Regions from separate parts of the Homo sapiens genome. Here region 1 is linked to region 2. The links come from fine-mapping of genetic effects on gene expression. A gene starts in region 2. The other region holds a variant in brackets. All regions are shown on one strand. Distances are from middle to middle.

Region 1 (5,383 bases), 220 kb before region 2:
ACAAAAAAATTAGCCTGGCTTGGTGGCGGGGGCCTGTAGTCCCAGTTACTTGGGAGGCTGAGGCAGCAGAATGGCGTGAACCTGGGAGGCGGAGCTGGCAGTGAGGCGAGATCACGCCACTGCACTCCAGCCTGGGTGACAGAGTGAGACTCCGTCTCAAAAAAAAAAAAAAAAAGTCATTCATTTCCCATTCTTACAAATGGCCACAAAAGGAAACGCCTATGCCATGTGAACACGTTCTCAGAATAAGTACAGGAGGCAGCCTGCAAGTCTGGGCGACTCTTCCTACTTTCTTTCCATCAAATTCCTTCACCTTCTTTAGAACAGACACAATGACTGTCAATCCTGAGAAACTTCAAGGTGCGCTACCTAGAATATCAACCAGCTCAACCAGAAGCTGATCCTGACACCTGTGTCCTACAGGAAGTTCTGATTTGCTCAGGTGGAGAGGATTTCCCCAGCATCCCCTGGTGGCCACAAGGCCATGGGGGAGTCAGCACAACCTGCAGAGATCCCCTGGTTCAGGGTGGGTGGAAACAGGGGGTTCGGGGGCTGAACAGTTAGAGGCTGGCCAGGAGCTAGGGAACTGGATAGGTATGAAGGGTTTGAAGCTTACCTGTCGGAAGGTTCTGGGGTGGAGGAGTCTGTGGAGGGAGCTTCAGAGAGCAGGAGGGGCATTAGAAGGCTGGGGCCCCTGCAATCTAATCTTTGTTGTGTAATGCGTTTCCCGCCCTATCCCAGCCTAGCTTCTGCCTGGTGATCTCAGACCCCTGCAGGGCAGCTCCCCACTCACCCCTGCACCATCCTCGCTGTCACAGTGCCTGATGCCCCAAAACTGGAAGTGTGCCTGCCATTGCCTTTCCCTGCCTGGTTTCCAGCAGTCCCATCACATGGCTCCAAAAAACAGCATCGGGGTTTTTTTCTAGAACCCAAATTTATAAACAAGGGGCAATGTCCTCTGACAAGGTTGGTTTGTGCTCAGTATAATGGTAGCCAGGGCTACCTGGATCAGGAACATCTTGTGATCCCCTCCCTACTCCCCTGGGTCTGGCTTGCTGGGCCTCACACCCTCTTCACACCCTGGTCTCCCTGAGAATTAGATGCAGCTCCCCATGTCACCAGCTGCTTACTGGGACTGCCCAGCCCAGGCCCACCTTGAATCCTCACCACGTTCCCCACTCTATGGACCCAGCGGCTGCTGTGTGTCCCATGGAGCCAGCCCATGGTGCTGGCAGAAGATGGAACAGTCGTCCTCCTGGGCTGGCCCCAGGTCACCCAAGCAGGCTTTTCTCCTCTCCTCACCTGCCTGATGGTGCCCACCCGATGTGGGGCAGTCCACAGGGCTGCTGGAGCTTAGTGAGAAATGAATCCCTTCCCAGCCCCCAGGGGCTTGCCCAGCAGCCTTTCCCCATTGGTGCTAGTAGCCTTGGGCCTTCCCAGAGACTGCTGCAGGCCTGTCCGTAGCATGAGGCCATTGCTAAGGTGAAGGAGAAGCCTCTGTCCCCTCTTCCCTCCCTGGCTCAGCTCACCTGCTCTGGCAGTGTGCTTGGTGAGGCCAGGTGTGCTTCCTCCCTTCCTCCCCAGGGCCTCTCCACCTCGGTCCACACAGGGGCAGTTTCCCCAGGAAACTCTAACTCATTCCATTACCTTCCCCCAGCTGATCTTGGAAACCCCCTTGCTGTGAATATTGGCAAGCTTAAGAGCTTATTGCCCCCACCATGGCGTCCAGCTCTTGATCAGTGTGCTTTGAGGGCTTTGTCTTCCAAGCCTTGGACAACCCTGAATGCTGGTTAGTCTTTGGCTGGCTCCAAGACGCAGTGTCACACAAGTACCACCCTGTGGACACGCTGAAGTTCCCATGGAGTCTTTTCTATCGAAAACTCAGCCTCTTTCAGGCCAAACACCGGCTCCCTTCATGTGCATAGCTTTCTAACTGGTACAATTTCCCCAAAGATAATTTAGAATTATAGTGATCACTTTGGGGAAACTCTGATATATACAAAACAAAAACAAAGCAAAATTCTGAATATCCAATGGTCTGCTGTCTTTAATTGGTATGAGGAGGCTCCTAAACACAATTTGGACTCAAAAAATGCTTCTCTAAAATATTCTTTAGCTATAACTAATATGAAATAG[G/T]AGCATCTTTTCCCTCATGTGCATCTTTTTTTTCTTTTTTCTTTTCTTTTTTTTTTTTTTGAGATGGAGTCTCACTCTGTTGCCCAGGCTGGAGTGCAATGGCACCATCTCAGCTCACTGCAAACTCCTTCTCCCAGGTTCAAGTGATTCTCCCGCCTCAGCCTCCTGAGTAGCTGGGATTACAGGCCTGTGCTACCACGCCCAACTAATTTTTGTATTTTTAGTAGAGATGGAGTTTCACGATGTTGGCTAGGCTGGTCTCAAACTTCTGACTTCAAGTGATCCACCCACCTCAGCCTCCCAAAGTGCTAGGATTACAGGCATGAGCCACCGTGCCCGACCAAGCATCTTTAAAATGTTGACATTTCCAATGCCCTTGCCACATTTTGTGAAAGGCTTCAGGTCCAAAACTGTCACTATGTTGGGTAAACAAAAATGTTGGCTGGCAAATCACTCTATTGCATAAACATCAATATTTGGCTAAACATTTTTTTTTTTTTGAGATGGAGTCTCGCTCTGTCACCCAGGCTGGAGTGCAGTGGCGTGATCTCAGCTCACTGCAAGCTCTGCCTCCCCGGGTTCACACCATTCTCCTGCCTCAGCCTCCCAAGTAGCTGGGGTTACATGCGCCCGCCACCATGCCCGGCTAATTTTTTTTGTATTTTTAGCTAAGACAGGGCTTTACCATGTTACCCAGGATGGTCTTGATCTTCTGACCTCATGATCCACCGGCCTTGGCCTCCCAAAGTGCTGGGATTACAGGCATGAGCCACTGCACCTGGGCTTGGCTAAACATTTTAAGGAGACTCTGGATATCAAGAATAAAAGACCCCTCATGAGGAAAATCTTTGTCTTGTTTGCCTAAATGACAGATCATTTTGTTTCACAGGGAGGCATCACTTCCTTCCTTTCCATAAGTTGGAGATTAATACATTCTGGCTTTTAAAAAATTGTATGGCTTGATAGAATTGTCACAAACTGAAATTATGTCAAAACCAGATATAGGACACTCTCGTGTGTGTATTGTATATATGTCTAAACTTTCATCCCTCTTCTTACAGAGAAAAATGATTAGTTATTTGTCTAAAGCCAGCTCCCTCTCATTTTTTTTCTATCCCATTTCCTCTCCTTTTCCCTCTTTTGAAAACTTAACAAAATGAAAGACTTAACAAAAATTACATTCAGCCGTTATGCATATATTCTAGGAATTTTTAGTTCAGGTAAAGTCTAAATTGTCTAAAGAAAAAAGTTATTGAACTATTTTTTATGGACACTAGAAAATGTATTTCCCTGATAACCTTTTAAACTAGCTATGACAAAAGAAAAGACGCCAACTTCAAAATAAAGGAAAATGTTAGCATGATTCACTCCTTATTAGTTTATTTTTTTAAAAAATGTTAGTACAATATTTTGGCTTATTCCAGACCAAAATTAGATTTCTTATAATTCAAACTTCCTAAATTTCCTACATTAATTTTATTTATTTATTTATTTTTGAGATGGAGCCTCACTCTGTCCCCAGGCTGGAGTGCAGTGGCACAATCTCGGCTCACAGCAACCTCCACCTCTCAGGTTCAAGCGATTCTCCTGTCTCAGCCTCCCGAGTAGCTGGGATTACAGGTGTGTGCCACCATGCCCAGCTAATTTTTTGTATTTTTAGTAGAGATGGGTTTTCACCATGTTGGCCAGGCTAGTCTCAAACTCTCGACCTCAGGTGATCCACCCGCCTCGGCCTCCCAAAATGCTGGGATTACAGGCATGAGCCACAGCGCCCGGCCCACATTTATTTTGTAAATGAAATGTTTTCATCATTTCCATAACTTATTTAAAATAAAAAATTTTGACCGGGTATGGTGGCTCACATCTGTAATCCCAGCACTTTGGGAGGCCAAAGCAGGTGGATCACTTCAGGCCAGGAGTTAGAGACCAGCCTGGCCGACATAGTGAAACCCCATCTCTACACCAAAAATACAAAACTTAGCTGGGCGTGGAGGCACACGCCTGTAGTTCCAGCTACTCGGGAGGCTGAGGCACAAGAATCGCTTGAACCCAGGAGGCGGAGGCTTCAGTGAGCCGAGATCATGCCATTGCACTCCAGCCTGGATGACAGAGCGAGACCCTTTCTCAAAAATAAATAAATAAAGTAAAATAACAGATATAAATTCACCCTTGAAATATAGAGCACTCTCAAAAACTGAATTGACTTGACTCTCCCAGAAATCGAAGCTCATATGACTAAAATAATTGCCCTCACCCAGGCATGCCAACTTGTGAAAGTGAAGTATGTAGTTATGCTGGTAGTAAAGGGGCTTTTGTCCACAAATTCAGAGTGCTTAGAGAACCCCAGGGGAGGAGCTCAGTGGGTGGAGTCTCCAGAGATTTGCCTTGGAGGCTGTTGGGACAGCAGGAGTGAGTGCTGTGATTGGCTGGGACCTCGATGTCACAAAGGTCAGGGACAGCTGCCAGAGAATGAAGCAGAGGGCTGTGGGGTGAAGGGACTGCCAGTCTTCTGCCACTCCTTTTCGTGGTCCTTCCCTTCACTGCCTTCCTTCTCCCAGACAGACTGGGCATCCAGTTCCAATCCAAAGGCTGCCCCTTTGACCAGGCCCATCTTCTCCACCTCACATCAGACAGCCAATCGGCTGCCCAGACCTCGAAACCTCAGTAACCTAGAAGGTAAGGACTTTCAGATTTCACCAGGAAGGATTATCCCTTCATGCCTTATAAAAGTAACAGAACCGGTCGGGCACAGTGGCTCATGCCTGTAATCCCAGCACTTTGGGAGGCCAAGGCAGATGGATCACCTGAGATCAGGAGTTTGAGACCAGCCTGGCCAACATGGTGAAACCCCCTCTCTACTAAAAATACAAAAAATTAGCCAGTCATGGTGGCACACGCCTGTAGTCCTAGCTACTTGGGAGGCTGAGGCAGGAGAATCACTTGAACCAGGGAGGCGGAGGTTGCAGTGAGCCAAGACCTCATCATTGCACTCCAGCCTGGGCAGCAAGAGTGAAACTCTGTCTCAAAAAATAAATAAATAAATAAAAACTAATAGAACCTATCAATTCATAGGAAATGGACCTTGGCAAACGTGTGTCAGGAGAGGATGACTTGGAGGTGTCCACCGTGTTTCTTACTGAAGGTTTGTTCAAACCTAGAAATTCACTTGGGACAGCTTATGAGCCCTCTCCTATTCTTGGGAAAGCTTTTAAATTGTCTGACAAAGTCTGTACCCCTGGAGCATGGG
Region 2 (5,383 bases):
AATTTGAAACTTAACAGATGGAGAGTGTCAAAATGGAAGGGCAGTGGTACCCTGCTTTCCCTATTCAGAGGGAAAAAAATCCTTGACCCGCAGTTGAGCTGATGATCCCTGCCACAGTCATTGTGAATTCTAATCAATATTTCATCATTGCTGTCAAATGATAGCCTGTTACTAATGAAACAACATTCTGTCCCAGCACTAAATTTACTGGGACATAAATTTTTCACATGGAGCCAAGCTCTTCACTGATTAAGCCAGTGCAGAATCCACTTGTGGGCAGTCAGTGCCCATTACCCCCTGTGAACCATTCTGTGCCCTTGAGTACATTTGTGGGTTTAACTCAGTCTATATTCTTAAGTTGGTAATTTTTATGTTGTAATTCTCAAAGTTCTGTTTCTGTAGCTGGACTATGAATAATACCTGAATATGAAGATTGTGTTTTTTAATAATGTCAAAGTGGTGTGTTGATTATCATAAATGTTATTAATTCAACCCCACAGTTTCTTGGGGGCTGGTTCCTCATTAGAGTGAAAGGTAGCCAAGAGTGAAAACTGGAAGGGGCCTAAGGCTTAAAGTCTTAAGACCTGGATGTGGTTCAGGTTTTGCCATCTGCCTCAGAAAAAATCTCTTCAGTTCTTGGAGCCTTGAATTCCTCATCTGTTAAACAGGAGGAAGAATATCTACCTCACAAAGTTCTTATGAGATAATGAATATAAAAATGTTTCATCCAGGTTGTTGAATCATCCCAGCTTATATAATAATTACAAAGGACATATGTACTTTAACAATGGAGAATGCTGTGATTTACCTCTTCACCGAGTAACAAAATGTCACATTGCTTAGATTGAGACAGCCCACATAATGTGCCACCTTCTGTGATGTAATAAGCTGAAAAATGTTCAACCTGAATTTAATCAAGCTTCTTGGACCTCATTGCCAGGTTACAGGAAATACAGGAGGCAGAGGAACAAATAAAAGACACCACGAGAAACAGACACATCCAGAACGTGGAATATTGCATAAGAAAGCTGCCCTGGATTCTTCAAAATATTATTATGATGAAAAAGAGAGGGGAGTGAAAATTGTTCAAGCTGTCTTGAGTCTGCTGTGAGTTTATTATACCATTCTCTGCTTTTGTGTATGTATGAAAATTTCGATATGAAAGGTATAAAACATGGATGAGGAGGCTTGTTTTTAAAAGATAATACTAGAGAGCCGTTAGGTACTAAGAACCAGAAATAGACTCACATAAATGGCCAATTGATTTTTGACAGGGGCAAAAGCAATTCAATGGAGGAGGGATCGCCTTTTCAGCAAATACTGTTGGAGTAATTGGATATCCATAGGCAGTAAACCAACAACTTCAGGACCTAGGACTGAGCTAAGAAGGCTCAGATGACTCAAAAGCATGCTCCTTAGAAGGAAAAAAAATGTTAAATTGGACTTCATCAAAATTAAGATAATTTACCCTGTAAGAGACCTTTTTACAAAGATGATATTACAGGTTGGGAAAAAATATTTGCAAATCATATCCAACAAGGGATTTGTATGTAAACTACATAAAGAACTTTCCAAATTTAACAGTAATAAGTAAATACAATTAGAAAATAAGCAAAAGACAGACATTTCACTGAAGTATAGATAGCAAATAAGCAAATGAAAAGATGTTCAACATCATTAGGCATGAGGGAAATGCAGAGTAAAATCGTGAGATATCACCTATCAGAATAGCTTAACTTTTTTTTTTTAATGGTGGTAACTGCTGGCAAGGATGAAGAGAAACAGGATCTCATACATTGCTGGGAATGTAAAATGGTACAGCCACTCTGGAATATAATTTGGCAGTTTCTTGTAAAACCACACATGTATATGTCATGCTTCAGGAATTGCACTTCTGAGCATTTATCCCAGAGAAATGAAAACTTGCGTTCACACAAAAACCTGTATACGAATGTTCATAGCAGCTTTATTTGTAATGGTCGAAACCTGTAGGCAACCCATATATCCTTCCTTAGGTGGTTAAAACAAATTGTGGTTTATGTATTACCATGGAATACTTGTTACTCTGCAATAAAATTGACTTATTGATATCCATAACAACTCAAATAAATTTCAAGGGAATTAATGCTGAGTGAAAATAATCACAAAAGGCCATATTCTGTATGAAAATATTCATATAACATTCTCAAAATGATAAAACTATAGAGATGAAAAATGGATTAATGGTTGCCAAAGGTTAGGGATGGTGGGAGGAAAAATGGGGAGAGGGTTGGATGGAACTATTAAAAGGTAGCACCAGAAAGGTCTTTGTGGTGATGGAACACTTGTGTATCTTGATTGCAGTGGTGGTTACACAAATCTATAGGTGCTATACCTATACACACATACTGTACCAATGTTGATTTCCTTTTTCATTTTATGTAAGATGTAACCATGAGGGGAAAGTGGGTGAAGGGTGCTATCTTTGCAACTTCCTGTGATTCTATCATTTCAAAATAAAAAGTAAAAACCAACAATGGCAACGAAAACCCAAAACTAAAGAGCTGTAACCAACTAAAGTGTGTGAAACTGATTTGAAAAAAAGTTATAAAATACATGTTTTAGGACAGTTGGGAAATTTGAATATGACTGGTTATTAGATGGTATTAGGGAATTTTTGTTGATTTTCTTACCTGTGACGGTGGTGGTAGTTTGAAGAATATTCTTAATCTTAAGGGATGCATGTTGAAGTATTTGGAATGAAGTGTTCTGATGTTTACAACTTTCAAAAAAATGATTTTAAATATGTATTGAGAGATCAGGCAAACATAGCAAAATGTTCATTGTTGAGTCCACATGGAAAATACGGGTATTCAATGTGCCATACTTTCAACTCTTCTGTACTCTGATATTTTCAAAATAAAACATTTGAGGGGAAATTATCAGGGCTTTCTACAGATTAATGCTGTGTAGCTTCAGGCTCTTGGGTGCGCGCCTCGCCTGAGTGTCTCATCCCTGCTTGGGATGCGCCCCTCCCTGAGGCTCACTTAGAGCTTCCAACAGCACAATCCTCCTAAGCGCTTCTGCCCCATCCCTGGTCTGGGGCGACATTGGACACCCATCGAGAGGAAAGCACCTCCGAGGTTCCTAGAGAGGCCGGCTTGGCGACTTGGGGAGCCGGAAGCCCATCCCGAGGCACTTCCTGTCCGGTCATTGTTCTCGTGCCGGTAGAAGCTGAAGTACCGGTCAGCCAGCCTCCTGCTGCAGAGCCAGTGAACTCAGGTCGGGCTTCTCAGCTGCGCACAGTGAGTGGGGTCGGAGGGGGTGGGCACGAACGTCGAGGGAGAAAAAGGGGCTCTCCCAGGGGCCATGGCCCTAGGAGCGGCCCCTGCGTCCTTTCCCCGGGGACACCAGCCTTGTCTGTCGGGGTGCGGGGGGCAGTGAGTTCCCCACCGCCTCGGAATCCCGGCTGCTGCCCACCTGGGGCCTGGTCCGGGAGAGGATGCACACGGACCGGCCAAGGGGCCAGATAGGTCCCAGGGACAGGGCCGCGAGGAGCCTATACGTGGAAAGAATGGATTGCCACGTTTGGAAATAGAGAAAGGACGTTGAAAGGGAGCCTTTGATAGAGGGCCCTGTGCCGTCTGGGACCGGAGGTCCGTCAGAATCTGATCAGAAGTCTGATGAGAGTACTCACTGTAGGCAGTCTTATACACAAGGTGGAACTAGTCTTAAGGACCTTCATACCAGATTGAATTCGGATAGTGATGGAAAGAATAGTCCTCCAGAATTAAGGTTTGTCACAGGAATGAAAGTATTGCATTACTTAATAAATTCAGTGTATACAGTAAGTGGCCAGTAAGTTGACATGGGGAAAAGAGTATGATCACTTCAATAGCAGCAACAGGGGATTGAATAAGATTTCGCACCCTTTTCCAATAAAACATTCAAAGGGGGTTAGAAAGAAAAATTTCAATCTCTTCATAAGCAATCAAACTAGTAAGGTTATTTTGCTCACAGGTTAAAAACAAAAACCCTGCTGGCTTAGCTGTGATAAAGGGTTACTGTCAATTAGTGGGGGTGTGAATTGGCATGGTGCTTTTGGAAAGCAATTTGACAGTACATATCAACCAGCAAATCCTTGAACCAGTAATTCTCTGATTATTCTAAAGGAATAATTCAGCAAAAAAAAAATATTTACAAAGAAAAACTTTTAAATATTAATAAAATGGAAATATAAACTTTTACTAAATAAATGGTTCATAAATAGAATATGATTAAGTAAATGATAATATAGCCACAATTTAGAATACTATGCCAGAATGAGGTAGTTCTATATGTGTTGTATTGAAAGATTGTTAAGACTATTGTGAAATACGGAAATTGAGTTAAAAAACAATGCAGGTTGCTGAACAGTATATAACTGTGATGATCTAAAGTATGTTTTTGAAAAATAAGCAATATGTGTGAAGGTGAACATATAAGTATGTAAATGCAGAGAAAATGGGTTAGGACTCCCATCTAAACTGATAAGTACTTTGTGTGTGTGTGTGTGTGTGTGTGTAGTGTGTGTAGGTTATATATTTAATTCTATATATTTCTGTATTACTTGATCCTTTTTCAATGAGAGTGAAGATTTATCAACACCATAGGTTATTGTGTAGCATTTAAAATAAGCATGAAGAATGGCAACATGAAAGTAATCTTTTTTTAAATCTTAAGTGTAATATTTTATCTCACAGGACATTTGGAAGCTATGGAAAATGTAAAAATCAAACAAAAAAAATGAAAAGAACCTTAAAACTACCTGTAATTACACCATCCAGAGTTAACTACCCACTGCTAACACGTTGGTATAAAGACTCCCAGTCTTTTTCTTGGGATCCTTTTGTTCACATTATTTTGTATCCTTGGCAATAAAAAATCTTTTTGTTGTAAAATCCTTTTTTAAAAAATGCTATGATGATAATTGTGAAAATATGTATCCCCAAAGTCAAAAACAAGAATTTGTAAAATCATAATTATTAGTAGTATGGTTGGAGATTTTCCTTTGAAAGAAATATCTTAAATCTTAAAATGTATAGTGGTTATCTCTTTGGAGGTAGACCGAGATGATTTTTCTTAATCATTTGCTGCTTTTAAGTTTTTACAATAAAAGTAAGTTAACTTTTAATCAGGAAAAAATCAATAAACATTATATAAAGCTGTTTGCAATGTGGTTATTATGGGAAGATATTACATATTTATAGTCCAACCCCTTCATCCTATGAGGGAGGAATAGAGGATTCCATGTCCTACATTGGCCCCTGGCCAGGCGCTGGTGAAATTTGCCGGTGTGGCATCCGGCAAATTTGCTAAGTGGCATCCAGCAAATCTCTCCTTGGTGCTAACAGTGTTTTCTGAT

Evidence for each region. PIP is the estimated chance that this variant, and not a neighbour inherited with it, causes the effect. A credible set is the group of variants that fine-mapping cannot tell apart.
Region 1: its variant is the best candidate, but not a certain one, in a credible set for the expression of ZNF35 in whole blood (INTERVAL, PIP 0.76).

The regions. Positions count from the first base shown.
Region 1 is chr3:44,423,347-44,428,729 of GRCh38, forward strand. LINC01988 (long intergenic non-protein coding RNA 1988) reads left to right here and starts at 4,576. Exons shown (of 4, transcript NR_144436.1): 1 at 4,576-4,812; 2 at 5,209-5,278. It also overlaps the pseudogene C3orf86P. RefSeq lists an enhancer at 1,498-1,637. The variant G/T (reference allele first, on the strand shown) is at 2,137.
Region 2 is chr3:44,645,551-44,650,933 of GRCh38, forward strand. ZNF35 (zinc finger protein 35) reads left to right here and starts at 3,182. Exons shown (of 4, transcript NM_003420.4): 1 at 3,182-3,284. ZNF660-ZNF197 (ZNF660-ZNF197 readthrough) reads left to right here. Exons shown (of 8, transcript NR_147692.2): 8 at 1-2,921. ZNF197 (zinc finger protein 197) reads left to right here. Exons shown (of 6, transcript NM_006991.5): 6 at 1-2,921. All of the region lies in intron 2 of ZKSCAN7-AS1 (ZKSCAN7 ZNF cluster antisense RNA 1), which reads right to left. RefSeq lists enhancers at 2,867-3,426, 3,305-3,474, 3,555-3,664.